Linked DNA regions of Homo sapiens. The protein of the gene in region 1 purifies or fractionates together with the protein of each later gene. This does not show direct contact. Each region holds a gene or a part of one and is shown in the gene's direction. Other genes may lie near its edges.

Evidence for each region.
Region 2: the proteins of SRP54 (region 1) and DERL1 purify together in Homo sapiens (affinity purification with western blotting; 2 studies listed by BioGRID). This does not show direct contact.
Region 3: the proteins of SRP54 (region 1) and SRP9 purify together in Homo sapiens (co-immunoprecipitation; 5 studies listed by BioGRID and IntAct, with this or other methods). This does not show direct contact.

What each region holds. Positions count from the first base shown.
Region 1 is NC_000014.9:35,012,734-35,023,514, forward strand, and holds part of SRP54 (signal recognition particle subunit SRP54), read left to right. Parts: intron 1-612; coding exon 613-761; intron 762-1,068; coding exon 1,069-1,169; intron 1,170-2,010; coding exon 2,011-2,097; intron 2,098-5,958; coding exon 5,959-6,032; intron 6,033-6,232; coding exon 6,233-6,341; intron 6,342-10,176; coding exon 10,177-10,347; intron 10,348-10,781. UniProt on the Homo sapiens protein: Component of the signal recognition particle (SRP) complex, a ribonucleoprotein complex that mediates the cotranslational targeting of secretory and membrane proteins to the endoplasmic reticulum (ER).
Region 2 is NC_000008.11:123,015,871-123,026,651, reverse strand, and holds part of DERL1 (derlin-1), read left to right. Parts: intron 1-879; exon of another isoform or gene 880-929; intron 930-1,601; coding exon 1,602-1,666; intron 1,667-2,912; coding exon 2,913-2,939; intron 2,940-3,872; coding exon 3,873-3,968; intron 3,969-5,152; coding exon 5,153-5,205; intron 5,206-7,346; coding exon 7,347-7,457; intron 7,458-10,781. UniProt on the Homo sapiens protein: Functional component of endoplasmic reticulum-associated degradation (ERAD) for misfolded lumenal proteins. Forms homotetramers which encircle a large channel traversing the endoplasmic reticulum (ER) membrane.
Region 3 is NC_000001.11:225,771,287-225,782,227, forward strand, and holds the start of SRP9 (signal recognition particle 9 kDa protein), read left to right. Parts: upstream 1-6,539; 5' UTR 6,540-6,654; coding exon 6,655-6,726; intron 6,727-10,941. UniProt on the Homo sapiens protein: Component of the signal recognition particle (SRP) complex, a ribonucleoprotein complex that mediates the cotranslational targeting of secretory and membrane proteins to the endoplasmic reticulum (ER).

The sequences.
Region 1 (10,781 bases):
TGATACTCTGTATCCCATTTTCGTTGTTATACATCTGAAATGTTTATCTATTTATTATATATGTCCTCTGACTAGAATGCAAGTTTCTTAGGACAAATATTTTCTCATTTACCTTTTTGTTCTCATGACCTAGATGGTACCTGATAATACATAGTACTTCAACAAATATTTATGGATTGAATAATTATTTATAGTGTAAATGTTGTAGTTTTTTTTTTTTTTTTTTTGAGATGGAGTTTCACTCTTGTCGCCCAGGCTGGAGTGCAGTGGCATGATCTCAGCTGACTGCAACCTCTGCCTCCCGGGTTCAAGTGATTCTCCTGCCTGAGCCTCTCAAGTAGCTGGGATTACAGGCACTCGCCACCATGCCTGGCTAATTTTTGTATGCTAATTTTTGTATTTTTAGTAGAGACGGGGTTTTCACCATGTTGGCCAGGCTGGTCTTGAACTATCTCAGGTGATCCACCTGGCTCGGCCTCCCAAAGTGCTGGGATTACAGGCATGAGCCACTGCACCTGGCTCTAAATATTGTTTTATAGCTTCTAATGATGACATTTGCTTAGGATCAATAAAAATCTTTTCTAAAGTATCTTTTCTATTTAAACTTTCTAGCAACCTGATAACATTGTTTATGTGATGGATGCCTCCATTGGGCAGGCTTGTGAAGCCCAGGCTAAGGCTTTTAAAGATAAAGTAGATGTAGCCTCAGTAATAGTGACAAAACTTGATGGCCATGCAAAAGGAGGTGGTGCACTCAGTGCGTAAGTATCATTGATACTGTTGTCCTCTGTCTTGGGATTATATGGGGAAGGATATGTGTTTATAGCTTTCATATTGATCATTTAAAATATGTTTCAATAGTGAGCCTAATATGGTTTATAAAGAAAGTTTAAATAGAAACAATTTTGGAGCCTGTCTGATATAGGTCTATTATAACTTGTGAAATGAAACTTGAGTTTTGTACCTTTGTCTAATTAGCTTTGGAGGCGGATTCACTTCGAATTTCAGATCTGCTGGAAATTTGTGGGGTTCTTTTGAGGTTATTTTATATTTTCTTTTTTTTTCCAGAGTCGCTGCCACAAAAAGTCCGATTATTTTCATTGGTACAGGGGAACATATAGATGACTTTGAACCTTTCAAAACACAGCCTTTTATTAGCAAACTTCTTGGTATGTACAGTGGTGGGGATATAGAAAAATCTCCAAGAAATACGATGTATCTTTAGGACAAAATAGGATTTTAATTCTGTCCTCACTAATTTAAGCACATCATTTCTTTCTGTGACTTAGTTTCCTTACCTGTAAAATAGAGATAATGGTTATCTGCCCTCTGTGGTGAAAGTGGTAAAATGAGGTATCTAGTAGAAAGTTCTTTGGAAAAGTTTTAGAGCACAGTACAAAAACAAGTGGTTTTAATAATAGTGGATGTAAGGGCAGTAATACTTTGGCAATGTCTCAAGGTGGTATAGTTAGAGAGCATGGAATTTGGAGTTAAACCCTGGGCTGCAGTCCTTGCTTTGCCACTTGTTTGTTGCCACTTAACTTTTTTTTTTTTTTTTTTTGAGACGGAGTTTCGCTCTTGTCACCCAGGCTGGAGTGCAATGGCGGGATCTCAGTTCACTGCACCTTCAGCCTCCCGGGTTCAAGCGATTTTCCTGCCTTAGCCTCCCAGGTAGCTGGGATTACAGGCGTGCACCACCAGGTCCAGCTAATTTTTTTTTATTTTTAGTAGAGACGGGGTTTCACCATGTTGGCCAGGCTAGTCTCAAACTCCTGACCTCAGGTGATCCACCCACCTTGGCCTCCCAAAGTGCTGGGATTACAGGCATGAGCCACCGCTCCTGGCCATGCCACTTAACTTTCTTAGCTTTGGTTTTCTCATTTGTGTAGTGTAGTAAGAATACCTAACCTATTATAACCTCACAAGGTTATTATGTATGTGAATGTGTTTTGTATAATGTGAAGCAGGGTATAGTATTAGTTGTTAATTTTTCTTTTTTGTATCTTATAGGTATGGGCGACATTGAAGGACTGATAGATAAAGTCAACGAGTTGAAGTTGGATGACAATGAAGCACTTATAGAGAAGTTGAAACATGGTATATGAGTGACAAAAAAGCACTTCATCTCAGATTTCTTCCATTGATTTTTTTTATAAAGTTACTATTAAGTTATTTGAAATGTAATATCTGTTAGAGTCAGATCTTCCACTGCTTATTATTTTAGATGATTTATATGCAAATCATTTAAAATCTCAGGTACCTGAGCAGTTACAGAATTCAGTGTTTTTATTTTCTTTATTGTAATAAAATTAAGATTAAAATAAGGCTTTCACTAGGTTCCTTGAAGTTTTTCTGTTTTTTAAGACAGAGTCTCACTCTGTTACCCAGGCTGGAGTGCAGTGGTGCAATCTTGGCTCACCGCAAACTCCACCTCCTGGGTTCAAGTGATTCTCCTGCCTCAGCCTCCTGAGTAGCTGGGATTACGGGCACGTACCACCAGGCCCGGCTAATTTTTGTATTTTTAGTAGAGATGGGTTTTGCCATGTTGGCCAGGCTGGTCTTGAACTGCTGACCTCAGGTGATCCACCCACCTCAGCCTCCCAAAGTGCTGAGATTACAGGTGTGAACCACTGTGCTTGGCCGGTTCCTTGAAGTTAAACAGGTTAAAAGTAAGTTAGAACACAAGGATGAAATTAAATATACCACATTTTCTTTACCCCACATGAAAGACCACTCCTGTAGAGAAGGATATTATTCTGATTAGGAGCTCAGGTTCTTAAATATAACATACCTGTTTTTGTATCTCTGATCTATTTTTTAGCTTTATAACTTTTTAAATTACTTAGCCTCAATTTTGTCATCTATAAAACGTACATAATACTAACTACTTCATATGGTTGTGAAGATTGCATTCGCTGATGCATGTACAATGTCTGGCACATCATAAACACTCAATGTATATTATTCTCAACCATTCCAGTTGTTCTAAAAATAATCTTTAATTACCGTAGCAACTATTCTGCCTCTTTGCTTCTTCTCACTCATCTTACCAGATAATTGTGCCTTTACTTTTCTCTTAAATGCTGGTGTTTCTCAGGGATCATTCGAAGTTATCTTTCTCAGGAGCTTCAGACTCATGTATCTGTGTTTACTAGACCATTCTTGGATGTTTCATAGACATCTCAAATTCAGCATATCCTTATTCCCATCCCAACCTCTCACCTCGTTGTCTTATCAATGAATATTAATATCATTTATATTGTTGCCAGAGTCAGAAACTTGGGTGTCATTATTATTTCTTCCTCACTCTGCCCACTCCTTTCTCCATCAGTTAACTAGTCCAAGTGTTTCCACCTCCTAAATATCTCCATTCCATCCCCTTCTCTGTAGCTGCCCTTCAACTATGCTAGTTCATCTCTTTCCTAGATCTTCTTATTGTAAGTCTTTCAACAGATCTTCCATCTTCCTGTACTCTTCCCCTTTGATGTATTTTTTCATACTACAGCCCAGAATAATCTTTCAAAACTGCAAATCTGATCCCATTACTGCTTTTCTTAAAATTCTTTAGTGGCTTTCTCTTGCCCTTTTAAAGTTTTTAACTGATTTTACTGTCTAGCTCACATCTTCCATGTTGTGTTTTAGCATTGTTGTTCTTAGTATTCTGTGTGCCAGCTATGCTGGACTTCTTTTAGTTTCTCAAATGTACATTCCTGTCTCTCACATCTGGGCTGTTGCCTTTGCCAGTCCCTCTATCTCTCTTCTTACCTCTGCCATCATCTCCTCTGGCCAAGATGGCTAACTGCTACTTGCACTTCAGATTTCTCCTTAAATGTCCTTCTTCAGGGACATTTCACCTGAACCCTAGACTGAGTTGGAACCTTCTGACAGATGTTTCTATCACTTCCTACAATTAATTTTTATATTATTCAGCACAATTATTTGATGTCTGTTTTTCCTGCTTGAAGGTGAAGGTAGAGGTCATAGCTGGGTTACTCATTTTTTATGTTCACAGTACCTAGCACAGTGTCTGGCACATAGTAGGCCTTCAGCAACTATTGAATGAATGAATTTATCCTTTGTTGCCTGTCTCTTTGCCCCTTTTTTTTCTTTTCTTTTTTTTTTTTTTTCTTCTTTTTTTGAGACAGAGTTTCACTCTTGTTGCCCAGGCTGGAGTGCATTGGCACAATCTCAGCTCAGTGCAACCTCCGCCTCCCAGTTTGAAGCAGTTCTCCTGCCTCAGCCTCCCCATTAGCTGGGACTACAGGCATGCACTGCCACGCCCGGCTAATTTTTGCATTTTTAGTAGAAATGGGGTTTCACCATGGTGGCCAGGCTGATCTCGAACTCCTGGCCTCAGGTGATCTGCCTGCCTCGGCCTCCCAAAGTGCTGAGATTACAGGCATGAGCCACCTTGCCTGGCCGCTCCTTCCTTTTTCTATCTTGGATAATCCTACCACTGTTTCTGCTACCACTATGAAGCTGGGTGTATATTCCTACTCTGTTTCCTTTCTGACTCCTGACTCTCCTTAAGTCTCTACATTTTTGTTTCTATTTCTAATATTCTACTCATTCTGAGATCTCCAAGGGTCTCCTAATTTCCACATGTAGTGACCTTTCTTGTTTTCCTTGGTTCCTAATATTTAAGTGTTTTCTGCCTTTTCTGTTTTCAGACTCTAAGTTCTATGTCTGTGGATTTCTTATATTATTCTAGCTTTAATTATCACTTCTGTATAAATGGCCAAATATGTATTTCAACCTTAATCCTCTCTTCCACTGTTTAATTCTGCGTTTCTAGTTGACTGCTATAACATTTCTTTTAAGATACTGTACTGCCACTTCACATTCAGAATGCCTGAACCAAATACCTTTTCTCTTTTTATCTTTAGGACATAAATAGAAAATACTTTCTCTTTTGGCTTGTTCCATCCCTGTTTTTAAACCTTAGGTTAGTATACATACAATGAAATGCTCAAATCCTAAGGATACCTTTCTTTTTTTGACAAATGCACAGTAACCCACACCCAATCAAGAAACAGAACATTTCCATTACTCTAAAAGGTTTGCTTGTGCCCTTTCCCGGTAATACTTCATATTATAGAAGTCCTGGGCTGTGCATGGTGGCTCACACTGTAATCCTAGTGCTTTAGGAGGCCAAGGTGGGAGGATCATTTGAGGTCAGGAGTTTGAGACCAGCCTGGGCAATGTAGTGAGACCCATATCTCTTAGAAAAATCCAGTGGCATGCATCCATAGTCATAACTACTCTGGAGACTGAGGCAGGCGGTCACTTGAGCTCAAGAGTTTGAGGCTACCAGTGTGTGATGACTGTACCACTTCAATCCAGTCTCAGTGATAGAGCACAACCCTCTTAAAAAAATAAAGAAATTCTGAGTATATCGTTTTTCTTCCAATCTGTTTTCTTTGACTAAGCATATTTTGATATTAATTCATGTAGTTGTACTTATCTATAGTTTGTTCTTTTTATTGCTGAATAATATTTTTTCCACAGTGTATCCATTTTCCTGTTCATAGATACCTAAGCTATTTAAGAAACTCCAAACAATCTTCTAAAGTGTCTTGCTATTCTATATTCTCACCAATATATGGGAGTTCTTTGTGGTCCACATCCACTTTAACTTTTGATATTGTCAACCTTTAAAATTTTACTCATCCTAGTAGGTGTAGTTTATGTGCCTTGTTTTCAGGTTTCTTGTGTGTTTGTATATGTGTCTTCTCAGATAGAATGTAAGCTTCTCTATGATAGGACCTGTCTTTGTCTATGTATTCTCCCCAGCATTCATCCTGTCATCTTGCACATGGTAACTGCTTGGTGAATATTTATTGATGTATATTTTATAAATATGCTTCAAGATGAATTCATGATTAAGGAATAAATTAGTTTTGTTGAATGGAAATGTACATACTTTAATATATCCGAATTATTTACATTGTATTTCAGGTCAGTTTACGTTGCGAGACATGTATGAGCAATTTCAAAATATCATGAAAATGGGCCCCTTCAGTCAGATCTTGGTTAGTTATCCTTAAAACTTTATACCTTCTTTTGTTTTCATTAAATTTTCTAAAATAGATACACTTGCTTTAATTATTTTTACATTCGGGTAAAAATATATCTAAGACTTAGTGTCAATATTAAACCTAATAGTTAAATGTGGACATTTTGAACCATTAATCTTAAGCTACTATTGACTTTATGTTTAAATCTGTTGTAGGGGATGATCCCTGGTTTTGGGACAGATTTTATGAGCAAAGGAAATGAACAGGAGTCAATGGCAAGGCTAAAGAAATTAATGACAATAATGGATAGTATGAATGATCAAGGTAAGATGGCAGATTATTTTCCTCAGGCAAAAATGTTCTGAGTATCAGTAAGATGAGAGTTTCACTGTATTCTTGTGGACAAGATGGGGAGAAATTTAGCCTGAAAGATTATTTTTAGGTAGATTTGTAATAGCTTGAAAGCTCTTACTCAAAGGGTTATGATTATTGGATTGCCTTCATCGTTGAGAGAAATGTCTAGTATAATACTTCTCCAAATGAGTTACAAGGAAAGAACACTAGTTCTTCATGATGTTCATAGAGTTAACTTAAAAGGAGAACTCTGAGTCAAATGTGGTGGAATGCTAGTTTTTAAAGAGTTAAATTTGGCTGGGTGAGGTGGCTCACACCTGTAATCCTAGCACTTTGGCAGGCCAAGGTGGGAAGATTACTTGAGGCCAGGAGTTTAAGACCAACCTGGCCAAACGTAGCAAGACCCTGCCTCTATGAAAAAAAATTATTTACTGAAAGTCTCTTCACGGAGCTTTAATATTGCTAACATACATTGGGAAACTAAGAAATGGATAGCTTAAGCAATGCTTAGAAAATTCTTTCTGTCTGAAACATAAGAATTCAGTTTTCTCAGTATACTGCTCTGTTCCCCTGACCCTATAAAGGCATGCCTCAGAGATACTGTGGGTTTGGTTCTAGACCACTGCAGTAAAGGAAATATCATGCAATAAAGTCAGTCATACAGATTGTTTTGGTTTTCCAGTGTATATAAAAGTTATGTTTACAAATACATATACTGTAGTCTATTAAGTGTGCAAGAGCATTATATCTAAAAAACAATGTATATACCTTAATTTAAAAATAGTTGATTGTTGGCCGGGCGCAGTGGCTCACGACGCCTGTAATCCCAGCACTTTGGGAGGCTGAGGCGGGCGGATCACCTGAGGTCAGGAGTTTGACACCAGCCTGGCTAACATGGTAAAACCCCGTTTCTACTAAAAATACAAAAAAATTAGCCGGGCGTGGTGGCACACACCTGTAATCCCAGCTACTTGGGAGGCTGAGGCAGGAGAATCGCTTGAACCCGGGAGGCGGAGGTTGCAGTGAGCCGAGATTGTGTCATTGCACTCCAGCCTGGGCGACAGAGTGAGACTCTGTCTCAAAAGAAAAAAATAAAAAAATATAGTTTATTGCTAAAAATGCTAATGATCATCTAAGCCTTCAGTGCATTATAATCTTTTTGCTGGTGGAGGGCCTTAGCTTGATGTTGATGACTGCTAACTGATTACAGTGATGGTTGCCAAAGGTCAAGGTGGCTGTGACAATTTCTTAAAACACAAGAATGAAATTTGCCCCATTGATTGACTCTTCTTTTCACAAAAGATTTCTCTGTAGTATTCGATGCTGTTCGATAGCATTTTACCCACAGTAGAACGTCTTCCAAAATTGGAGTCAGTTCTGTCAAACCCTGCTGCTGCTGCTTTATCAACTAAGTTTATGTAATATTCTAACAATTTGAACAATTTTTCATATCTGTGCTTTATCTACTATCTGATTTATTGTTATTTTTTTGTAGTCTCTTTTTCCTGAGCTCCAGGTTTTCATAGTAGCCCAAATAAGACTGTCTTTTTCTTTTAAGGTTGTTTTTTTTCCTCACTGTCTTTAACACTGCAAAAATGTTTGCATGTAGAATTCATAATTGCAGCATATCTAAAGTATCCATTCTGTGCCAGGCACTGTCCTGAGCACTTTAAATATATTAATTCATTTTATCATCATAACAACTCCTATGGCATATTCAGTTATTATCTGCCTTTTTCAAATTAGGAAACTGGGATACAGGGAAGTTGAGTAATTTGCCCAGTATAGAACCTTTCCTGACTTCCTTCCTTCTTTGAATTAACGCCCCTTCCTCTATTTGCTTAACTCTGTCGTATTACTTGCCACGATGTGCTGCTATTAGTTTATCTTCTTTCATTTGATTTGAGCTGTTGGAAGGAATATAATATATATGTTTCATAAATCTTTTATAAGGAAGATGTGGCTTAAAAGCTGCATTTATGAAATGGATTTGGAGGTTTTGATCGTGACTTTATTTTGAGATATTGTATCTTTGTTAGTATTGCATTGATAATTAGACTTCACCTGGATTTCAGTTCACTTCTGGACAATATACTTAGAGGGTATGTATAGACAAATTAAAAGATGTAGGAAATCAGGATGATAAATGGGGTTCTAAACCATGTTAGAAGAGTCAGAGGTGGATATTTGTCATCCAGCGAAAATTCACAGGAGACATGGTAGCTCTTATGCATTTGAAAGCTGGCCAGGTGCGGTGGCTCTCAACTGTAATCCCAGCATTTTGGGAGGCTGAGGTCGGTGGATCACTTGAGGTCAGGAGTTCGAGACCAGCCTGGGCAACATGGTGAAACCCTGTCTTTACTAAAAGTACAAAAAAAATTAGCTGGCTGTGGTGGCGTGTGCCTATAGTTCCAGCTACTCAGGAGCCTGAGGTGGGAGAATCGCTTGAACCCTGGAGGTGGTGGTTGCAGTGAGCGAAGCTTGCACCACTGCACTCCAGCCTGAGGGACAGAGCAACACTCTGTCTCAAAAAAAAAAAAGATTTTGAAAGCCTTATTTTTTATGCGTAGCAAGGAGACATATACATGAATAGGAATGGAAGTGCCACGTAAATGGATTTCAATTTAATATGTGTAAAGAAAAGATTTTTCCCTAAGTATAACAGAATGGCATAGACAGCCTTACATTAGATAGCAGGTCATCTCTCCTGGGGATATTAAGACCAAGGCTAGATAACCATTTATTTGGGGGATATTGCAGAGGGAATGCAGACATAATGGACATTTTGACTAAAGTCCATCCCATTCCTGAGATTGCATGCAACTGAAGCTAGAAGAAATGCACCTGATATTCTAAGAGTGATCAAACAACTGCGGGAATTAATTCACTATATGCTACTGAGAGAATTAAAATACTAGTAGTAGTAATTACTTGATTATAGGAAATAATTTTTCTGTTGATTATGGATAGAACGTACCTCTTTCTGCTTGCTTATATAGTCTACATTATGAATTTATGATTAATATTTAGGGTAGAGCTAAAGTGAGCATTTGTGTTCATTTTTTAAATATACCATATACCTCTGATGTTTGGAGGGCCTGGAGAGGGTAGACATATGAAGTATGGAAATGTTGGACATGGGGTCTCGAAACATTCTATTAATAGTTTACTTAAACTGTAGGGAAAGTACATGTTTGTTTCATTGTTTTTATAGCTTATGAATACTATAAATGTTCTTTTGAATATATTCCGTATTTTCTTTTTTTTTTTGAGATGGAGTCTCGCTCTGTCGCCCAGGCTGGAGTGCAATGGCGCAATCTTGGCTCACTGCAACCTCTGCCTCCCAGGTTCAAGCGATTCTTCTGCCTCAGCCTCCCGAGTAGCTGGGACTACAGGCACATGCCACCATGCCCAGCTAATTTTTGTATTATTAGTAAAGACAGGGTTTCACCATATTGGCCAGGCTGGTGTCGAACTCCTGACCTCATGAGCTGCCTGCCTCGGCCTCACAAAGTGTTGTGATTACAGGCATGAGCCACCACGCCTGGCCTCCATGTTTAATTTTTAAAACTCAAAAGCAAACATAGCGAATGTTAACATTTGTTAAATCTGGGTGGTAGTTTGACTATGTATTATGTCTGTTTTTCTGTATGTAAGATATTTTGTAATATAAAAAGAAAAATGAGATAGTTATCACTTTAAAAACATCTGCTAAGCTCTTTGAAGTTATATATTGCCCATTTGCACATAACTGCTTTGATGGTGAATGATAATTGTGTGTGAGAGTAACTGACCTTGTCTACAGAACTAGACAGTACGGATGGTGCCAAAGTTTTTAGTAAACAACCAGGAAGAATCCAAAGAGTAGCAAGAGGATCGGGTGTATCAACAAGAGATGTTCAAGAACTTTTGACACAATATACCAAGTTTGCACAGATGGTAAAAAAGATGGGAGGTATCAAAGGACTTTTCAAAGGTAAGAAAAATAAGCTTGTTATTAGTTAACAGACGGAAAAGAAAGGAAGTTGAGAAAAAAGAGTGCTGCCAGTATTGGAAAATTCACAGCTGAATTTCATGTTATTTTCAAGTACTTCCAGGATTTATGTGACCTGTGATTTATCTGTTTTCATATTCAAGGTAATATTAATATTTAAAAAAAAACTTTACATCTGTGTAGTGTGGGTAAATGAAAAAAAATTAATAAAGCAATGATTTTCTTTTTGTGAACACATTATATTAAATTTAGATAATATAAGGAAAAAAAAAACACATTACCTTTACTCCCCAGAGAATCCAGTGGATCCTACTGCAAATAACAGTTGCTATAACTAAGTTTTCTTCTGATATATCATAACTGTTTTTCCATGTTGTCAAATATTCTTCAAAACATAATTCTTGGCCAGGCACGAT
Region 2 (10,781 bases), on another chromosome or scaffold:
CCAAAAGTTGCAGAGCTCTTTGAGTTAACGCAGTTAGGACTGGAACCCAGGTTCACTGATCCCCAGTTTTCTGTCAACCACACAGCTTTAAGTTAACATCTTGACAAAATGTTTGCCACCTGCACATTTTCCTGCCTGGCTAAATTGTTAGTTATATAGCAGAGTTGGCTTATTTGAGGTTTCTGATTTGAACTGGAAGACTGTAATTTGAAACCAGTTAATTTGTAAATTCTCAGTTGCAAGCATGTCAGATAATATAGTGCTGTAATTTATATGATTACAATATTTTAAGTACTCAGTCTAAAGACTCCTTAGGAATCAGACAGCCAAAGCCACATCAAAAGAAGCACAGCTATTATTAAAATCGGGAAATTGTGTTAGAATTTCAGCTGTGATTCATCATTGTGATCCTCTAGCATTAGGCCTGCTTAACACTGTGGCTGAAGTGTGCTTTGAGGTATCAAGGGAGAAATAAAGGAGAGTAGAAGACACTTTTGCTGGAAACCTATTTTCTTTTAATTATATCTTTTTGCCTTACTGACACTTGTTGGGTTTCTTTTTTTAAATTGACTAGCTGTATCATGTAACTGTGAGGGGGTGTGGAACGGGGAGGGAAAGTAACTTTCAAGCTAGAGTGATCTTACAGTCATTTCTGTTTCTTTTTTTTTTTTTCTTCTGTTAAAGTCTTCTAACTGAAGGCATTAGGAATTATGCTTACACGGGAGGCCGTTGTTGATTATTCTGCCCAATAAGGCATATGGCGCAGTGACAGGAGCACTGTGCTAGTAATTTGATGTCACTCTGGTTCTAACAAGCTCTGTGACTTTGGTCATGTGACTTTAACTCTGCATCTGTAAGAAGCAGGTCGTAGGTCTTTCCATTCTCCCTTCCAGATGCAGTATGAGGACTGAGTCAGAGGCTATGGAAAGGTTTGGCTGACGCTTTATTCCCTCCTTCCCCCACATTGTTTTCCCTTGGTAGAATGTACGTCTCTGGAAGACAGAGACTTTCTTTTTCAGTATCTAAGGCCAGTGTGGTACAGGTGGTTGTGTGTGTGTATGTGTGTTTCTAATAATAATGGTAAGTACCTCCCAGCATAGCCATGCTGGAGGAGACACAATGGAGACAAAACAGGCATGGTTCCTCCTCTGACAGAACTTAACGGTCTAGTGGAGGAGGACAGGGATCAAGCATGTAATCCAGAATGCGGCCATCAGGTCATGGCGAGAGCCAAGAAGGAAAGGCTGACAGGCTGGGAGGGAGCTTGGGGGGCCTCACTGGTCTTTGGGATACAGGGCTCAGAAGCTGTGGAATTGACTGTACTTTCTCTGGGTCTGTTTTAGCCTGTGGTAGTCAGAGCATGTCACTTACTGGAATTCAGTTAGGAGAGCATAGATTAACCTTACTCAGGTAACTTTGATTCAGGGCTTTATTGGGGACGTTGTTTAGATATTTTTAAAAATTCACTTTTTTAGAGAGGAGTGGTTTTTAAAATGTTCTCATTTTGGCTTTTTCTGTAACTTTTTGAAGTGTTTCTCTATGTAGATGTTACTTTGTTGTGAAATTCTGAACCATGACATTTGGCTTGTTTTTGTTTCCAGGAGCTTTTGATGGGAGGCCAGCAGACTATTTATTCATGCTCCTCTTTAACTGGATTTGCATCGTGGTATCCTTCAGTCTGTGATTTTGGGCCAGAAATAAACCAGTTTTTTTCCAGGTTTGGGGAAATAGACCATATTCTGTAAACGTTTCAAATTACAATATTTGCATCTTGGTTGACTACCGTTAATAAGAATAATTATAGTTTTTTAAAAAAAACTGTAGTAAATCATATAGCCCTTGAGTGATGCATTCTCTTACCATTTGTGGGATTTTTTTCCACCTTTGGTTGAGTAGTTTTATGACTGTTCCCTCTTCTTGTTCCCAGTTCTCTGTGTTCTCATGTGTGACAGCTTGTTGACTGAGGCACAAAGAGAGTCCGTGCCATGAGACAGCTTTTGAAATCTGTGGTCCTTATCAGAAAATTAATTTACAACCAGCATCCTTTTCTGACTTCATTGCTGTCCTTCTCTTGGGGTCCTACATAGTAATTCAGTCCCTCTGTGAAGTACCCAGCTCTGGGAAGGGACACAGTACGTTTCTCTGCTTTGTATCAATAGCAGTTGTCAGCAGCCCTCCAACTGCAGGACTCTTACAGATGGTGAGAGCAGCAGCAGCTCTCGATGTCTCAGGTCCTGTGCAAAATTGGTGAGCTCAAAATTGCCTTTGGGCTCAGCTGCCATTTAAACTTGGCTGAGGGCCAGAAAATGTGGCACTGTGGATGCCCTTTCCCCCCTCCTTTGAGGGAAGGAAAAAATATTTTGGACTTTAACCATGCTATAGAGTCCTGAGAATGTAAGTAGAATGATTATTTCCTTCAAAGGCTACAGGCATCTTCATCCTTTATTTGAAGGAGAGATGTTAAAATGCAATAGCAGAGAAAAAGGATGCCAGATGACCAGACTAAGTCATATGCGGAAGCTGTTGATTTCTACTATGTCCTTGTCATGGTATCGTCTAATGGAATATGCATAATGAAGATTAGATACCTTTGTGTTGTAGAATGTTTTAAGCAATCTGAACTATAGAAAAGTATTTTCCTTCAGAACACTGGAATTAACTTAAAAATTTTTTTAATTAAAAAAATATGTATATAAATTAGAGATGGGGTCTTGCTATGTTGCCCAGGCTGGTCTGGAGCTCCTGGCCTCAAGCAGTCCTCCCATCTTGGCCTTCCAAAGTACAGAGATTACAAGCATGAGCCAAATTACACCTGGCCAAGTGAACTTTTAAATGGGAGGAAAATAACCACATCAGTCTTGACTAGGTACAGAATGCTTTTTTATGTCTGATCTTTAACTTTACAAACCAAGATTACTGGCTTAGCAATGGATATGCAGGTAAGTGTCCATTTAAACTATCTATTTGCCCTTTTATTTGTTTCAAATATACTATTAGTGGCCTTTGTCAGAAGTTGAAATTGCATTAACTATGGGGTTAATTATGTGGTATTTTGAAATTATGGAATTACAGCTGTTTTATTTATTTATTTATTTATGAGATGGAGTCTTGCTGTGTTGCTCAGGCTGGAGTGCAGTGGCTTGATCTTGGCTCACTGCAACCTCCGCCTCCCGGGTTCAAGTGATTTTCCTGCCTCAGCTTCCCGTGTAGCTGGGATTATAGATGCACGCCACCACACCCGGCTAATTTTTGTATTTTTAGTAGAGATGGGGTTTCACCATGTCACCAGGCTGGTCTTGAACTCCTGACCTCATGATCCGCCTGCCTCGGCCTCCCAAAGTGCTGGGATTACAGGCATGAGCCACCGTGCCTGGCCTATAGCTGTTTTATTTTGAGGATCTTAAGTCAGCTAAATCTTTGAAGATCTTACATGAGCTATCTAAATCATTGCTTTCCTTGCTCATTTCTGGCCTCTTTTTGGTGTTTGAACATTGACAATAATGGTTGTCTAGTATTTTCTAGGCATGTGACAACAGTGGTTGTCTAGTATTTTCTAGGCATGTATATGGATGTTTTTTAAAAATTGAGATTATATGGTAATGCTTTGTTGCTTACTTTTTGTAAATAACAGAGCTTGACTCTTACATTTCTGAATCCATCTAAAATAATATAGTTTTGTTGTATTTTATTATAGGATTTTGTAATATTTATTGTATGATAAATAATAGGATCAATTTATAATTCTGATCAGTTGAGTTTCCCTTTACCCAGGTGAGGATTGTTGTGAAGAGGAGGGGTAAAAAGCATAGTAGATGTACACCTTTTTTAAGTGCCTCTGGAGCCTGGTTTTTACATGTCGACTTCTTTTGCAGTTGCTGATGATTCCTCTGATCATGTCAGTACTTTATGTCTGGGCCCAGCTGAACAGAGACATGATTGTATCATTTTGGTTTGGAACACGATTTAAGGTACTTTGCCTTGGTTGGAAAAGTGTCCTTTTCATTTGTCTGCAGAAATCCCTCTTCAGTCCAGAGATGTACTTTCTGACTCATCCAGAAGGGGTCACTGCAGAGCAGTGTACCATAGGCAAGCCCCTTTCTGCCCTCCTCAATCCCAGCTCTATTTAATTAGCCAGCCTGGAGTCCGTTGCTGGCCTTTGTTTCTTCACTCCCTCTGTACCTCGGGCCCCTCAAGGTTATGTCCCTGAGTGATCTTATGTGTCTGTGTTAGAGAGAAGGAGAGATAACTCATGTGAAACCCTGCTTTAAAAATCTGTTCTTATCCCTCCCTCGTTCCCTGTTATTTGCTTTATACTGTAGCTGAAACAGATTGTTTTTGCCCCCAAACACTTCTCTTTGTACATTCTTTCACAATTTTCCACCTGTAACATCTTGATTCTCTTCTTTGTATAAATCCTACCCATTCTTAATTTGAGTTGGAACTGAACATATTTCCTGAATCTCCTGCCTAGAATTAGTCTTACGTTTGGGCTTTTTCAATACTTTGTGTTTCTCTTTAGTACTTAGCACATGTAGCTGTAAAGTTATTTGAGTATAACCCTCTCTTTCCTAGTTTGTGAAGTTTCTTGCAACTCCTTTAGCTCTTGGTATGATGTCTTGGATTTGGTAAGGGGCTCAAATGTTGAGTTCATCTGGAGAGCTTTCTTATTTGGGAGAGTATTAGTTTAAGATATCAATGCATAATGAGATAAAAATTCAGAGGAATTTTGCAAGATATGTAAAAGAAGAACCTAAAAAGATGGGGTATGTTTATTTTATTTGTAGCAATTTGTTGGCTGGAATCTTAGTGTGATTCTCTCATGGGCCTTGCTTTTAGTAGCATCTGTAGGACACTCATCTGCTTTTTGAAGCTGTCTGTTTATAGCAGTTCAGCAGGGCCTGTATTGCATCAGACCTGTGGGCAAAGTACTGTGTCCTTCCAGTTACAAATACACAATTAAGTCTAGTTTTAGATAGGAAGGTTTAAGTATAGTGGGAATAATGCTAGATTGATCCTAGAAATTTTGCAGTGACCTTCCAGAGGATTTATATAAAGCCCTTGTCAGTGTATCCTTACCCACTTTAGTCCCCGTAGTAGCTGTGTCCTCGTCAGGTGTGGCTACTCACATTTGCATATATTCATTCCATCCTAGGCCTGCTATTTACCCTGGGTTATCCTTGGATTCAACTATATCATCGGAGGCTCGTAAGTGATATTAGATTTATTTAATTGGAAACTAATCCTTGGAAAATTTCCATTAGTTTTTATCTTTCTCTAACCTTTATACAACTTTAAAGAATCTCAACATTGACGCATTAGAACCCTATATTTATGGAATAATTTCACTTCGATTGAATTGATTAGATTGCAGGGCTTTAAGCATATTTAACCTTGAATGGTTGTGATTTTGTTAACTTATTGTTACACACAGTATGTTCCTATGTGTATAGTACAGGAATAAATATGTATTTCTGGATTCACTATTCTGATTGGGCAAACAGAGACCTAATTTTTGTCTGAGTTGGCTCCTCTAAGAGCTATGTATAAAATTACTATGTCTTATATTCTTAAGGCATTTCCAGAATGCCTTGGAAACTGCCTATCGGTCATAGAAATCCAGATTCTTAGATAGGATATAATTTTGCAAGTGGTTTGATGATACAGAACTTTTTTTTTTTTTTTTTTGAGACGAAGTTTCACTTTTGTTGCCCAGGCTGGAGTGCAATGGTGCGATCTTGGCTCATTGTAACCTCTGCCTCATGGGTTCAAGCAATTCTCCTACCTCAGCCTCCCGAGTAGCTGGGATTACAGGCGCCCGCCTCCATGCCCGGCTATTTTTTTTTTTTTTTTTTTTTGGGATTTTTAGTAGAGATGGGGTTTTGCCATGTTTGCCAGGCTGGTCTCAAACTCCTGACCTCAAATGATCTGCCTGCCTTGGCCTCCTAAAGTGCTGGGATTTCAGGCATGAGCCACCATGCCTGGATGATAATACAGAACTTTTGGCCAACCAGGGTCAAATATCTAGTCTATTGGTCAGGAATTAGAGCTAGACATAGGAATAGCTTTAATTTATCCAGTCAGAATTTTAAAGGGAGGATACCAAGATGCAACTTCTCTAAGAACTCCCATTTCTTCATTTTTTCTGTTTATTTATTTACTTATTTATTTTTTCAAGATGGGGTCTGGCTCTGTCACCGAGGTTGGAGTGCAGTGGCGTGATCTTGGCTCACTGCAACCTCTGCTTCCCAGGTTCAAGCAATTCTCATGCCTCAGCTTCCCGAGTAGATGGGATTACAGGTGTGCACCACCACACCCAGCTAATTTTTGTATTTTTTGTAGAGATGAGGTTTCGCTGTGTTGCCCAGGCTGGTCTCAAACTTCTGACCTCAAATGATCCGCTCACCTTGGCCTCCCAAAGTGCTGGGATTGCAGGCATGAGCCACTGCACCCAGCCAGAACTCCCATTTCTTATACTACAAACTACTTTTAATATTTCAATCCATTTTTATATTGCTGGTTCTTCATGTGTCTGACATATTTGCTCTGTGTGATCCTAACTTCTTCTGCATATTGCTGGGGAGAAGTGAATGGATGGAGCAGACTGTTTAGAGCAAAGCATGTTCTGAACTTGGCAAAGCTGCTCTTCCACCCAGGAAGGTGAAGTCTGAAGTAGTTGCAGGTGTTGATTTGCCCCTGACGGGAATCATGTTGCAGGTGAAGACAAAGAGGATTTGTAATAGTAACAGTAGATCTATACACTCTTGAGGTGACCTGTATGTAAGCCAAGGGAAAACTGAAGAAGGTCAGCGTTGATTTCAGGGTGCAAGTCGGCTTTCCTAAGTGATCTCTGTGGTGTCTTACACTCAAGGATACAAGAGGCAAGGGAGAAGTGCTTAATGGCTCCAGGAAAGGGGGAACAGGCATTTATTGTTCCTCTTTTCCTTACTCCCACGCTTCTCTCTTGGTAGCCTTCATGTTTGCCCACATTTTATAAATACAATATTCATGACTGAAAGCATTCAGAAGCATGCTTTGCAACTTCCCCAACTCTTGAGGCAGGAAGTAGCAAAAACAATATTTTGAGGATGGGCTGGTGCTTGAAAGAGAGGTCAGAGGGGCTGCTGGCCTTGAAGAGTGGCAGGCCTCATTGGTTCAGCAGGACTGATTTCCCGTCTCCCTCAGAATGCATTTGCCACTCAGACTACAAAAGTGCTCATTGTCAGCTCTCACAGACTCCCAGGGACTAAATGGGCTGCCTTGAAGGCTCTCTTCCTTATGCTATTAGTTAAAACTTGGTGCATCTCTATTGCTTGAATGTCTTTAAACTCATTTGGCTCTCTTTGCAGGGTAATCAATGAGCTTATTGGAAATCTGGTTGGACATCTTTATTTTTTCCTAATGTTCAGATACCCAATGGACTTGGGAGGAAGAAATTTTCTATCCACACCTCAGTTTTTGTAAGTGTTTTTGTCCTGTCTCATCTAACATTTTACTGCCTGTGTTCTTAGTGCATCCTAATGAGAGCTCCATGAGGAGTATGATTTACCCCTATGCCCCATCTGCTGGAGAAACCTGAGGCAACAAGTGACTTACCCTAGTCACACAGTCACAGGAAGTTAGGGATTAAAGCTTAGGCTCAGTTGCCTTCCTGTTACTCTTTTAGCCAGGGACCACTGACAACTAGATTCCAACATTACAGGAGGCATCTCAGCTCTCTGAGCCTGCTGAGGGACCTGATGCAACTCCAGAGTGCGAAACAGTAGGCTGGTGAATGGGCAGAGTCACAGGTTAGTGGGGTGTCTTTTCTTGGCCCATCAGTTTTTACCCATGATTTTGCCCAAGGAAGGGTAAGTTAGCGTGTTGGTCAGCAATTTTAAACATTTTTATATTAAATACTATGGAGTAGACATTTTACAGGACTGTTCAGAGTTAAAATGAGAGACTTGAGGTTTGTATAGGCCCAACCCCCTGGGAGTTTGTGCTCTTTATCTGCTTTTAGGGTTTACTGAAGTGGGCTGGTAAGGGCAACAGCTTTGATTTTTGAGACAAACTTGGATTTGAATCCCAGTCCCCTCAGATAGCAGTTTTTATACTGGGAAAGTTACTTAATCAAACCTCCAAGCTTCAGTTTGCAAGCCTGTAAATTGTGGGAGAAGCCCCTGTCTCACAGGACTGCATGAGGTAAGATACACTGTTGGGAAGCACAGTAGCGGGTTCTCGGTAAGTAAAGCTAGCTGCCATATTCCTAAAGGTGGGGGTAGGAGAGCAGGATTTTGACGATCTGAGAGGAGACGCGCACACACCCAGAAGCATGTAATAGTCGTGTGACCGTTCTGTCAGTGAGGCAAAAGGCTGTCGAAGAACGGGCCAGTTAAATCACCATCTGGGTGTCACAGCCTGCCTGACAATCATGCCTAATCTCATATCAGGGATATGCAGTAATAGCTTGCATTTGAAAGCTTTAAAAAAACAAACAAACCAAACCCTTCCACATCTTGCTAATTTTAATGTTTTGCAGTTCTGTCATTCCTCTAAGGGATCAGTGAGGGCAGTAAAACTTGAGCAGGCCTCCTCTTTCTCCCCTTCCTTTTATAGGGTAGGGGTATGTTTTTCAAAGACTTTTCAAATTGTGAACTGTAATATACAGAGATATACCATATTGGTGGTTGTGGTGTGTGTGTTTTTCTTTAAGAGAATAAAAAGAAACTTGTTTCTCTTCTGAGCCTTGAATTGCCTTCAGGCTAAAAAAACAAATGACCAATCTGGTTTCTAATTATCAAAGGACATAATAACAGCAGGTTTGGCTTTCTGATCTAGGTTTATCAAGTAGGATGGCAGATGCATCAATTAAAAAAAGCTTGGTGCTTTTGGGGGGCAGCCAACAGTTACTTTACTTTAAATGGCCATATTCTAACTTAACGGCTTGTAGCTACTTCTCAGTTGTGGGCAACACAGGATACAAGATTCTAGTGGCAAAATCAGCGAGCCCTGGAGCCTGCCTTCCACTTGAACTTTCTCTGTTGGGGGAAGTCCTTCTGCTAAATTTTGCATAAAGATCAGATGACAAAATACAGCTCCTTGCAAAAGCAGTAACTGCTTTGAAATTACCATAAATTTTTGTTGATTATGTATAATTGGGTATCTTTTTATACTAATTATTTGCATTTAATTTCACTATCTACTTAAGCAGTGGAGATGGCTTCCATATTGTCTTAGAGTGAGTAGCAAAGCAAGACAGCCCTAGCATTTTCTCCAGCAAGTGTTCTATTTTATTATGTACTTTGGAGGAATATTATTGTACCAGAAGGCATGGATGTTGAGAAACCAGCACTTGGAAAATACATTTTGATTTAATGGTAAAGCTGTATTTGTTTAAAATGGAGGAGGTGAGTATAGGAAGGTATAACTGCTTTTCTAAATGGAATGCTGATACATTTGTATCACCATTTTCCATTCCATTTAGAGTAGTTATATCTTCTCTGTACACACTAAATTTTGTGTTTAAAAGGGGTTTTTGGCCAGGCGTGGTTGCTCACGTCGGTAATCCCAGCATTTTGGGAGGCCGACGGGTGGATCACGAGGTCAGGAGATCGAGACCATCCTGGCTAACATGGTGAAACCCTGGCTCCACTAAAAATACAAAAATTAGCTGGACATGGTAGCGGGCGCCTGTTGTCCCAGCTACTCGGGAGGCTGAGGCAGGAGAATTGCTTGAACCCGGGAGGTGGAGGTTGCAGTGAGCTGAGATCATGCTACTGCACTCCAGCCTGGTGACAGAGTGAGACTCCGTCTCAAAAAAAAACAAAAAAACAAAAACCCGAGTTGTTGTCTGTTTTGGGAAGAGGCATGAAGGTATCGAGTATGATGTAAACAGACTCCAGTCACTGACTGCTGTCCCTTCCCAGGCAGGATGCATGTAGTATAACAAGTAGTGCAGGGCGCAGGCTCTGGAACCAGGCTGACTAGGTTGGAATCCTGTCACTTTCGAAGCGCTTCACTCAGTGTTGGCTCAATTTTCTTGTTTATAAAACAGGAGTAATAGTAATGCCTACCTCATGGGGTTATTGTGAAGATCAGATGAATTTATAAGCAGGCAGCACCTAGTGTAAGGCAATAATCACTGAGTAAATTCACATAGTAACTGCTCTAGTATAAGGTCAAGTATAAAGCCTGTCCTCTTCAGGGTTTCTGCTGTGGACAAGTCACCTGTCATGACTTACTCTTGCTGCCAAGAAGGGTTTAAGCGGAGGTATCAGATCATGCTCTCTGCCTTCAAGCAAAATTTTAAACATTAGGATCTGCTAAGTGGAATAGGTTTAAACACATTCTCAGTTTACTAATAAAAGAGTCAAAGATGGGAAATAGTTGGAAAATACTATTGAGAGTGTAGGCTTGGGTTTAAGTTCTCTTAGCTGTTCTGTGAACTCTTAGTTTATTAATTTTAAGGTGGGAAATCATCTAACCGTCTGGGGCCCCAGCTCTCCCACCATCTGTGAGAAGGGAAGAATGTACCTGGAAGGCAGATTCTGAATAAATTTTAAAACATACCCATACTTCCAACATAGAAAGCCTTCTTCCCCTGTCTCCTTTGATGGGCTCAGCTGAGAGCCTTTTAGAAATGCTGTGCAAGGCTCAAACATGCAGGCTGTGGATTTGGCCTTTGAAAGTGAATGTATTTTGTATCCTTTGATCCAGTTTGAGCCATATTTAGATATACCAAGATGCTATCAGTCATTCTTTGGTTGCTGGGCTTGTGGGTGTAATATTTTTGTTTCCATACT
Region 3 (10,941 bases), on another chromosome or scaffold:
TAGAAATGATCACATTCTTGGAGTGGGGTGCAACTGGGGCAGTGACAGAAGCCTCCAGGAACTCTGAGATGTCCCTGGGGGATGCCTTAGTAGGTAGGGGTGGCATGAGGGTGCTAGTACAGTCTTTGGTCTAGAGGTCCCTTGAGCCCCCTTGGAGGGGCTATATTTCTTAGGTTGACTTCTTTTTTTTTTTTTTTCCTAGATGGAGTCTTGCTGTGTCACCCAGGCTGGAATACAGTGGTGTGATCACAGCTCACTGCAACCTCTGCCCCCCAAGTTCAAGCAATTTTCGTGCCTCAGCCTCCCAAGAGTAGCTGGGATTACAGGTGCACGCCACCACACCTGGCTAAGTTTTGTATTTTTAGTAGAGACGGGGTTTCACCATGTTTGTCAGGCTGGTCTTGAACTCCTGGCCTCAAGTGATCCACCCACCTAGGCCTCCCAAGTGCTGGGATTACAGGTGTGAGCCACCATGCCCAACCTTCTTAGGTTGACTTCTATCCCTGCCTTCTTTGCCCTTCCCTCCCCACTGTTCTCAGCCCCGGCCCCCACCCCAGCTGCAATCCTTGCTCCAGGGCTTCTGATCGGAATCCCCTAGGGAGTGCTGAATGTGGGTCCCTAGGGGTCAGCTCTGGGCTGCTCCCACACATACACAAGGAAGAACATTTTTCGGCATTTCATACAGTGACACTTTATATTGTTCTATCTTGTAATTGGTTTACTTCCTGATTTCCCCAAACAGCTATGAGGGTAGGAAATGGTCAGGCCTCTCTGAAACCCCAGTGTACTGTGCCCTGTTATGGTAGGTGCTTCATCCATGCTTATTTCTGCCTTCAGTTTTGATTATTTGTAAACTTGCCTAATCCCTGCACCCTCCCCTGCTTTCATTACTTGTAAGCTTCTTGTGCATATCTTTGTAGTCATTGTAGCACCCCTGGTAGGGTGACAGGCCCGGATTAGGTGCTCAGTAAGGAATTAATAAATTAAACTGGATTGGAGATTCCTGGTAATCAAATGAGAGCCCTTGTGAAAGGAAGTGTTGAGATTGAGCAAAAGGTAAACAAGTCCACCAACATGATTTCAGCTAAGCTGGGTGTATGTACTGATGTACTGAATGGGCGACCATTTCCTTCCAGAAAGGCTGGAGTCAGCCCTCCGGGATGGCTGTCTCTGTGTGACTGTCTGCACACCACTGCCCTCCACTGGACACTGAATCAAAGCTGCCCCAGACCCACGTTGGTGTCAGGACTCCCTCAGGTTTCCTTCCCTCCCTATCTGGGACACAACCTCCTGGGCAAACCGGTTTCTTGGTTGGCTTCTCTTACCAGGTTTGTTTTACCCTGTCTGCCTTGCATTGAATCCATGAAACTTGGGAAGTACAAGAGGAACAATGTCTTCTTTCACTCCTGGCATATAGCGGGGTCAATAAATATTTAATAAGTGAAAATAAACATGACACACATTCCTGGCAAGCCAGCAGCACTTCGGACTAGTACTATGATTATTAATATAAGAATCCATTTAAGGACCTATATATGTTCTTAGTCTAAAGCAGCTACAGTGCTGATTGTTTTTAGAAGACAACTGAGGAAAACAAAGAGGCACCAAAACTTAAGCAAAAGAAAGAGTTCAAAAACAGTCACTCCTCTTTATCTTAACAACCACCAAACTTTCCTCCTCTTGCATGCCTCCGCAGACCTTTGGGAAGATACAGAACAGGATGTAAAGGGAGGGGAAGTGAACACAGGTACTGCCAAGCCTCAGGGATTAGACTGCTCCCTCCCTCGCTTTGACGCGCTCTCCAGCTTCAGCTATTGGCATTTGTGAACTTGCCTTATTATCTCTGCCCCTGACCTCACTAGCTTGTAAATTGCCTTGCCCAGCACAATGACTGGCCTATAAAAGGTCTGCCATACACAGTTAACTGAATTCTGGTGGTTGAATATGCATGTTACTAATAATTTGCCAACAGTAATAATAAAATAGGTTGTTTTTTTTTAAAGAGACATCACATTTACAGCTTAGAAATTTTGATTTGGTGAGAAATTGTTTTCACCTTCCACAATTCAACTCTGGGGTTAGCTGTGGACCTGGTAGGCAGTGGGATATATGAATCTGAAGCTCAGGGAAGAAGCCTGGACGAAGTAGGAATCCAGGAGCCTCATAGCATGGAGGTTGGGGTTAAAACTCAAAGGGTATTGTCCAGGAAGAACTAGAGAAGGTGAAAACCAGAGGCTGGTGTCTTGGGATCCCAATCCTGAAGAACCAGGGGAGGCAGAGGAGGTCAGGACAGAGCCAGAGCAGAAGTCAGAGAGGAGCGAGAAAGAATGGGGCCAAAAAAGCCAGGGGTCTGGGAAGTTTTCGGGATTAGAGGGTGGCCAGTGGCCTCAAATACAGCTGAATAATCTAGTCACAAAGGATTGAGAGATGTCTGCTGGAGTGGGTAATATAATAGTCAGCTGGTGAACCCATGAAAGCAACTTTGGGGTGAGAGGGTAGATACAGTGGAAATGGGATGGGAAATGGGATCAGAAATGGGATCAGGAATGGGAGGCAAAGACATGAACACAATCGCGGGAGGTGGTGAACATAAGGAAAAGTGCAAGGGCTTTTGGTTTTGACCCTGCACCCAGGCTCTGCTTTACCGATCTAGCTTCTGTATTTCTACTAGTTACACTTTCTAAAAATCAAAATTAATCCTGTCACTTCCGGTTATGATTAACATCCACTGGCTTTTGCCATTTGCTGGACAATCCGGAGCAAAGTCTGGGGCCAATCTGTTTAGTGTCACTTATTTTTCAGGTTTGGTTTCTTCATCACCTGTAAAGGAGAGTGGCACAGGACTATAATCCCTTGTCCGAAATCCTTGAGGCCACCCGTATTTCAGAATTCACAGCCTTTTGGATCCTAGAAAGGTGATACAGTGCACATGTGGTATATTACATAATACCACCAGCAGGGTCTGTGCCCCACCCTGGAACCAAACACACCAAGTGAAACAAATAAAGACTAAGCAACCTTACTTGAGGTCAGGTCATTTTCTACTAATGGAGTTACCAAGATACTTTTGTTTTCCAGAGCTTTTCAGATTTTTGGAATTGTAATAAGGCTCACTGACCACCCTGGCAGAGTTGTTTGAAAGCTCAAATAAGATATGTGTGTGAAAATGAAGCAGAAAGGATAACCACAAAGGGTACAGAGGCCCTGATCTTCTTGACTGGGAATGAAAGGAATTTTTCCTTTTCTGACATTGTGCATGTGTGAGCAATTTATAAAGGACACTCTCTGATAGCCTTTCAGAAGCCACAGCAGGAAAGGAATAACCTAGTTTAAAGGATGCATCCAGCAGCCATAAAAAAAAAAAAAGAATGAAATCATGTCCTTTGTAGCAACATGGATAGAGCTGAAGGCCATTATCCTGTCAACGAACGTAGAAACAGAAAACCAGATACAGCATGCTCTCACTTATAAGTGGGAGCTAAACAATGGGCACTCATGTGGCTTGGCTCTGTGTCCCCACCCAAATCTCATGTTGAACTCTAATTCCCAGTGTTGGGGGAGGGACCTGGTGGGAGGTGATTGGATCATGGGGGTGGATTTCCCCCTTGCTGTTCTTGTGATAGTGAGTGAGTTCTCACAAGATCTAGTTGTTTAAAATTGTGTAGCACTTCCCCCTTCTCTCTCTCTCTCTCCTGCTGCCACGTGAAGAAGTGCTGGCTTCCAAGCACTTGATTTGGCCCTTCTGCCAGGATTGTTAAGTTTCCTGAGGCCTCCCCAGTCATGCCTCCTGTACAGCCTGCAGAACTGTGAGTTCAATTAAACCTCTTTTCTTCATAAATTACCCAGTCTCAGGTAGTTCTTTATAACAGTATGAGAATGGACGAATACGGGTACACATCAACATAAAGATGGAAATAATGGACACTGGTGACTCCAAAAGGGGGAGGGTGGGAAGATGGAAAGGGTTAAAAAGGTACCAATTGGGTACAATGCTCACTATTTGGGTGATGGGTACACTAGAAACCTAATGCCCACCAGTATGCAATATACCCATGTAACAAACATGCACATGTACCCCCGAACCTAAAATTAAATTTTTAAAAAAAGAATGCATCCTAGTGTGACTGGGGACATTTGCATAATCAAGGGCAATTCCCATAACTTCTTCCTTATCTTGATTTCTCTGCCTCTGTAGGGGCTGAGGCTGGGCTAAGCTTGGAGATGCTGGAACTCACAGTGATGGGGACCCTCACAATGGAGATCTGTTCTTTACTGTCATTCTCTCCATAACTGTGAGCTCTATGAGGCAGGGACTGGGCCTGTCTTGTTCACTGCTGGGTCTCTAATGCCTAGCCCAGCTCCTGGTGTTTGTCCAGGGTGGACACTTGTTTTACTTTTTGCTGAATTGAATTGAAACTGATCTCTTATGTTCCTTGTGACAGAAGGCAAAGTTGGCATTGTCTTAACTTCCATTGTTTTCATCTTCAGGGAAAAACCCCTACACCTGGGGGTCATTCTGCCCAACTCTGCCCTCTCTGCCTCTGCTCATTGCTCTTTATAGCTTCCCTCAACACACACACACACACACACACACACACACACGTGTCTCATTAAATGAGGATTTGGGTCCCTGGCTCATAGCCTTCTCCTTCATCTTATTCCTTTTCTTACTCATAGAAGACTTTGACTTTGTGTGGACAACCCAACTATAAATCCAGCCTCACCAGGGACTATTGCTACTCTAAAATGTTAAACCCCAATATCCAATCTGACTAAAACTTATTTCCTGCTATATTGAATTCAGATTTCCTTTAATCCTGGTTCCTTAACTTCTCTCTTTTGACTCAATTAATTACCAGCTATCTAGCATGGATCCCATAATTTATCATTTCAATCATTCTCTTGCCAGTACCACCTACAACATTCTTGACCCTTTGTTCTTCTTCCTCATGTACCCTATAAATCCCTAATATCTGTCTTTTCCAGTCCAAAATCCAAGCTTCTGGGTGTTGCTGGAGACAGACCCTAATTGGGGCTATTCCCAGATATGATCTCCAGTTTCAGCTTTTTACTCTACTTGACATATTGCTTTTGAGTTTCTTTTTTTGTTGTTGTTGTTGTTGTTGTTTTAGAGACAGAGTCTTGCTCTGTTGCCCAGGCTGGAGTGCAGTGATATGCGATCTTGGCTCACTACATCCTCCATCTCCTGGGTTCAAGAGATTCTCCTACCTCAGCCTCCCGAGTAGAGTAGCTGGGATTACAGGCACCCACGACCAAGCCCAACTAATTTTTTTATTTTTAGTAGAGATGGGGTTTCACGATGTTGACCAGGGTGGTCTTGAACTCCTGACTTCAAGTGATCTGCCCACCTCAGCCTCCCAGAGTGCTGGGATTGCAGGTGTGCACCACCGCTTCCCACCTGTTTTTTTCTAATAGGCTTCCTTATTCATTTCTCACAATGGCTTTTCCAAACCTTCTCCTCAAGGATCCAAACCCATCCTTGCTTCCTCAAAGATCCAAAACCACCCTTCCTATTTACGAAGGTGGTCTCCTGTCTTAGGTGACAAGAAAATGTACCTTCTTGCCCTCGTATCTACATGCTCACCTATACCCTCACCCGACTTTTCCCTCCTCCTCACCCCATCAAAGGCAATAATGCACCTGTTTTTATTCATCTGGGCCTTTGGTCTTCCCCTTCATATTTCCCGAGACCTCGCTTTCTTCTTTCTCTTGTATTTTTTATTTTTCTATCTCTTATGTGTCCTTCTCTAAAAGTTATAAACATGCACAAAATCTTTCCATCTCAAAATATAATACCCTTTACCTGGTGTCCCCTGCAGGCCATCTTCTTTATTTATTTACTTTTGCGCCAGCGTCTTCCTCTGAAGCCCAGGCTGGGTGCGTAGCGCGATCATGGCTCACTGCAGCCTCGGACTCCCGGGCTCAAGCGATCCTCCTGCTTGGAGGATCAGATTTTTTATCCTTGCAGAAGTGATAATATGGCTTCTTCCTCATCTCCTAAACACCAGTCATCTGACATACACTGCAGATCTAAAATGGGCCTACGTGTTCTGCCCTTCCTTGCCTACCTGTTGAGCTTGCACCGCTTCTGTGAGTCTCCCCCCACCCACAAGAGATCCTTCTTCCTTCGCGCTCCACTAACCCGACATAAATGTTTATCATATAAAGTTTTCCGTTGCACTCTTGTGTTTATGTCTCCTGGCTTCTTCACCAAGCTGTGTGACAGCTGGGCCCTGTCGCCTCCTTCCTCGTATATGCAGCGACTATCGCAGAGCCGCTTAATCTTTGTTGAAGGCAGCTGCGGTTCAGCCCTGAGGGCCACGGGACGGACGCCACTCATTCAGCCCTACCGGGGGCGCTGTGGCAGCCGGCATTGGTTGCCGTGCCCTCCGCTTGTCTCGCTCAGCTCTCGAGCCACACGCCCTGGGCTCCGCCCACTCCCTGACAACATCCCTCCTGCCCATTGGGCGAGCATGGACGGGGCTGTCCAATGGAGCGAGGCGTTGGTGCGAGGAGGCGCCGCCATCTTGGGGCTGCTGGGACTCGCGTCGGTTGGCGACTCCCGGACGTAGGTAGTTTGTTGGGCCGGGTTCTGAGGCCTTGCTTCTCTTTACTTTTCCACTCTAGGCCACGATGCCGCAGTACCAGACCTGGGAGGAGTTCAGCCGCGCTGCCGAGAAGCTTTACCTCGCTGACCCTATGAAGGTAAATCGCTGGCGGGGCCGCTGCTTTGGGCCCCAGCCCAGGATGTCTTCCCGCCATCCACTCGGCCCCTGGAGCTTCCCCAGCGCTCCCAGGAGGTGCTGGGAATGAACACAAATGGACCCTGCCAAGTTAATGTTCTGCTCTCTCGTCCCCTTCTTCCCTGATCTAGCGGCCCAGTGAGGCCCTGAAGCTGGCAACAGCCAGGTTCATCTCAGCCCTAAACATTTCTGCAATCGATCTTCCCGCCCCAGTCCCTCAGCTTCCTTTATGGCTTCGGTTGTTTTACGAGTCCCTGAAGCCAGGGCTCCTCCCCCTGCAGCTTCCTGTCCTTTGTCTTGGTTCACTTTTCCTGTACCGCCTAGGCGGTAAGGGTACCTCATGTATATAAAACTGATGATGTTTTTTCTACTACCGCTCAGACATTCTTGAAAGATTCCAATTTGGAAGCATCTGTACCCCCCAGAATATTGGTTCTTAGTATTTTGGGAGTCACAGGCTTTGGGACCATAAGAATAATATTTGCACCTTTCCTCAGAAAAATGGTATAAGTAAATGTATAAGTAAATGTTTGCAAACAATTTTAAGGGATTCATGGACCTCTGAAATACATTCTTAGCCCCCACAAAAATTATAATGGAGGTGGATGTCAGAGGTTAGCTCATTATTAAAAAGCAAAGGAGTCCAAGTGATGGGAGTTTAGCATTCGGGTCTTACTTTTCGTCTCTTGAGGTTTTGGTTATTTTATTGTCATGTCTAAGAATTATTTGAAGCATCTTCGTGTTAATTAAAAGTTCTGCTTCTTTTTAGAACTCAGCATATTGAAGGGATTTTATACTGAAAACCTCAGACCTGGTTATGTATGATGCTTCTTTTGTTTTGTGTTTGTTGTAACTCAGTTATCTCTTTTATGCTGCATTCATTTCCCACTCTCGTGTTACTGACCCCAAGTTAAATTAGGTTCTGTGGGAGACACAAAGGTGAATGAGATTCCGTTCAACCCTTAAGGAGCTGGTATTATTGGAGGGTATTATAGATCCAGTGTATTGTGACTGTATCCCTCGGAGAAGAAAGAAAATTAAAAGCAGATAAAATCTCGGAAAACCGGGGCTCAGGATCTTTTTTTTTTTTTTTCAATAGTTTTATTTTTTTTGAGACGAAATCTCGCACTGTCGCCCGGACTGGAGTGCAATGGCTCAATCTCAGCTCGCTGCAACCTCCACTTCCTGGGTTCAAACGGTTCTCCTGCCTCAGCTTCCCGAGTAGCTAGGTTTACAGGCGCCTGCCACCACACCTGGCTAATTTTTTGTATTTTTAATAGAGGCGGGGTTTCACCATCTTGGCCAGGCTGGTCTGGAACTCCTGACCTCGTGATCCACCCGCGTTGGCCTCCCAAAGTGTTGGGATTACAGGTGTGAGCCACTGCGCCCAGCCCAGGGCTCAGGATTTACTGTGTGAAACTATTGATGATCATTAAGTAATATGAATTATGTTTTAAGTGTATGCAGTGAGCTGGTAACCTGTAACTCCAATGCCACATACAGTTTATAGTGCATATAAGTTTAAAGTGTGCAGCAAGAAATGTTGATAATTATGATTAAAAATAGTATTAGACCCACAGAAAGACCTAGCTAAGTAACAAGCTGTAAAACATACTTCTATTTTTTACAATAAAATGATACAATAATAAATGATGGAAATTGTATTTTTTAAATTGAGTAATTTGTTTATAACACTGGTGACTTCTGGTTGCTTCATTTGGTTAGCTTCCCTTGTTGGCAGGGTCATTTGTTTCTTCATTCAGACAATGCTACTCTGAGACCACACAGGACTTTTATCCAGAAGTACCCACAGTATAAACTAAAAATACTTGAGACAACAGTAAAGAATATATAAATTCACATCAAGAGTAACTGTACTGTAAGAATGTGATGGCAGTGGTAGGGAAAATGAAAATAATTAGAGCATCACTGTGAGCAAAGCATGTCTAGAATAGACAAGAAAGAGAATATTTCACCTCTTACCCAGTCAGAAAATTGCAGTTGGCACAGGCTGGAGTGCAGTGGCACAAATCACAGTTCGCTGCACCATTGAACTGGGCTCGAGTGATCCTCCCACCTCAGCCTCCTGAGTAGCTGAGACTACAGACATGCCACCATGCCTGCCTAATTTTTTTTTTTTTTTTTTTTTTTTTTAAAGACGGGGCTCTTGCTTTGTTGCCCAGGTTGGTCTTAAATCCTTGCCTCAGGTGATTCTCCTGCCTCAGCTTCCCAAGTAGCTGGGATTACAGACACAAGCCATGGCGCCTGGCTTGACTGATATGTTGAGAGGGGAGAGGATGAGTGTAGAGGAAGAGCTTAACAGTTTTTTTTGTTTGTTTGTTTTCCAAGATGGAGTTTTGTTCTTGTTGCCCAGGCTGGAGGGCAGTGGCGCCATCTTGGCTCACTGCAACCTCCGCCTCTACGTGACAGGCATTTTACATATGTTTATATGTTACAGGCATTTAATATATATTTATGTGTGTTTACATAGATTTATACATAATATATGAACAATTACAGCAACCCATCAAAGTATATAAATGAATGATTTTATATCTGTTAAGTGATATACCTAGTTTCTTGAGAGATTAAGATGAAATTTGGACCCAGATCTTTGAACCCCAAGTCCATTCTCTTTCTGCTAGGGCTAAAGAACAAATTTTGTCAGGTCTCTGGAATCTGTTTTCCAAAATTCTCTGTCTTCTCTCCGCAACACATTTAACCTGTTGATTATACCCAGTATCTTTTTACCACTCTGTCTTGTATTGCTGTAATTGAAGATGGCATTACCACTGGATTATGTAATAACCTCTTTGTTGGTCTGTCAGCCTTTTTAGTTCCTTAACACTCTTGCCACAACTGTCTAAAAAACAAAAGTTGAATTCTTCATCTCCTGCTTAAAAACTGGCTCTTTGATAACTGGATATAGTCCCAACTCCCAGTCACAGTCTGACCCATCTCCAGTCTTTCTGGCTTTGTCTCACCATTTTCATGATCTTCAGCTCTAGTCTCATGAAGCTACCGGATTGTATCCTTGTTCAGAATGATTTTTAGCCTTTCTTCTGCCTTCTTCTATAAGGTTAAAACAAAAAAAGCATTTCAAAGCCACCTCCTTTTTTAGACTTTCCTTTTTCCCAGTCTAAGTTACTTGTTTTCTCTCTTTAGCATTTTATCTGTATATCCCTTTATAGGACTTAATTCATTCTGTCCTTGTGTTTTGGTTATTTTTGGTAAAGAACCTTGATTTTTCTTTCTTTATGGCATCTGACATGGTGACTTGGCACCCTCTAAATTACCAAATGGACCCTTTTATAAACACGATTGGCCTTTTTTCTTTTCTTTTTCTTTTTTTTTTTTTTTTTTTTTGAGACAGAGTTTTGCTTTTGTTGTCCAGGCTGGAGTGCAGTGGTGCAATCTCAGCTCACTGCAACCTCCGCCTCCCGAGTTCAAGCGATTCTCCTGCCTCAGCCTCCCGAGTAGCTGGGATTACAGACACCCACCACCATGCCCAGCTAATTTTTGTATTTTTAGTAGAGACGGGGTTTCACCATGTTGGCCAGACTGGTCTCGAACTCCTGACCTCGTGAGTGAACTCCTGCCCTCCCAAAGTGCTGGGATTATAGGCATGAGCCACTGCACCCAGCCATGATTGGCCTTTTAACTCTCATTTCTCCTAAATGAAACCAGTGAGTGTTCCTTTAACTGAGAGTTAAAACTTCACATAGTTGTCATGCTTAGTATATTTTTAAGTGTTTCGTTTCTAGAGAACTGAATTTTTAAAATGTGTAAAACTGAATTTACTAGATAAATAAATAGAATCAGGTATTCTAAAGATAATTAACCTAGTTACTACTATTTATACCTGCTTAAATGCTTGATGAGTTCCCTTTCCTCCTTCACTCAGACAAATCGCATATAGTGATGTAACTTTTTTTTTTCAGTCTCAGGAATGCAAAGACCGTAATGGGGAAAGCTGTAGGTTGCAGTTCCATTAGCCCTTTTTATTTAGTTTCCAGAATTGTCTTGAGGCCTCTGGTGCTAGATTGTAACCATTTTAAAATTATGTTTCTGTTCTGGCTTGTAGATAAGTAGCAGTTTTTATTTTATTTTATTTTATTTATTTATTTTTTTTGAAATGGAGTCTCGCTCTGTCCCCAGGCTGGAGTGCAATGGTGCG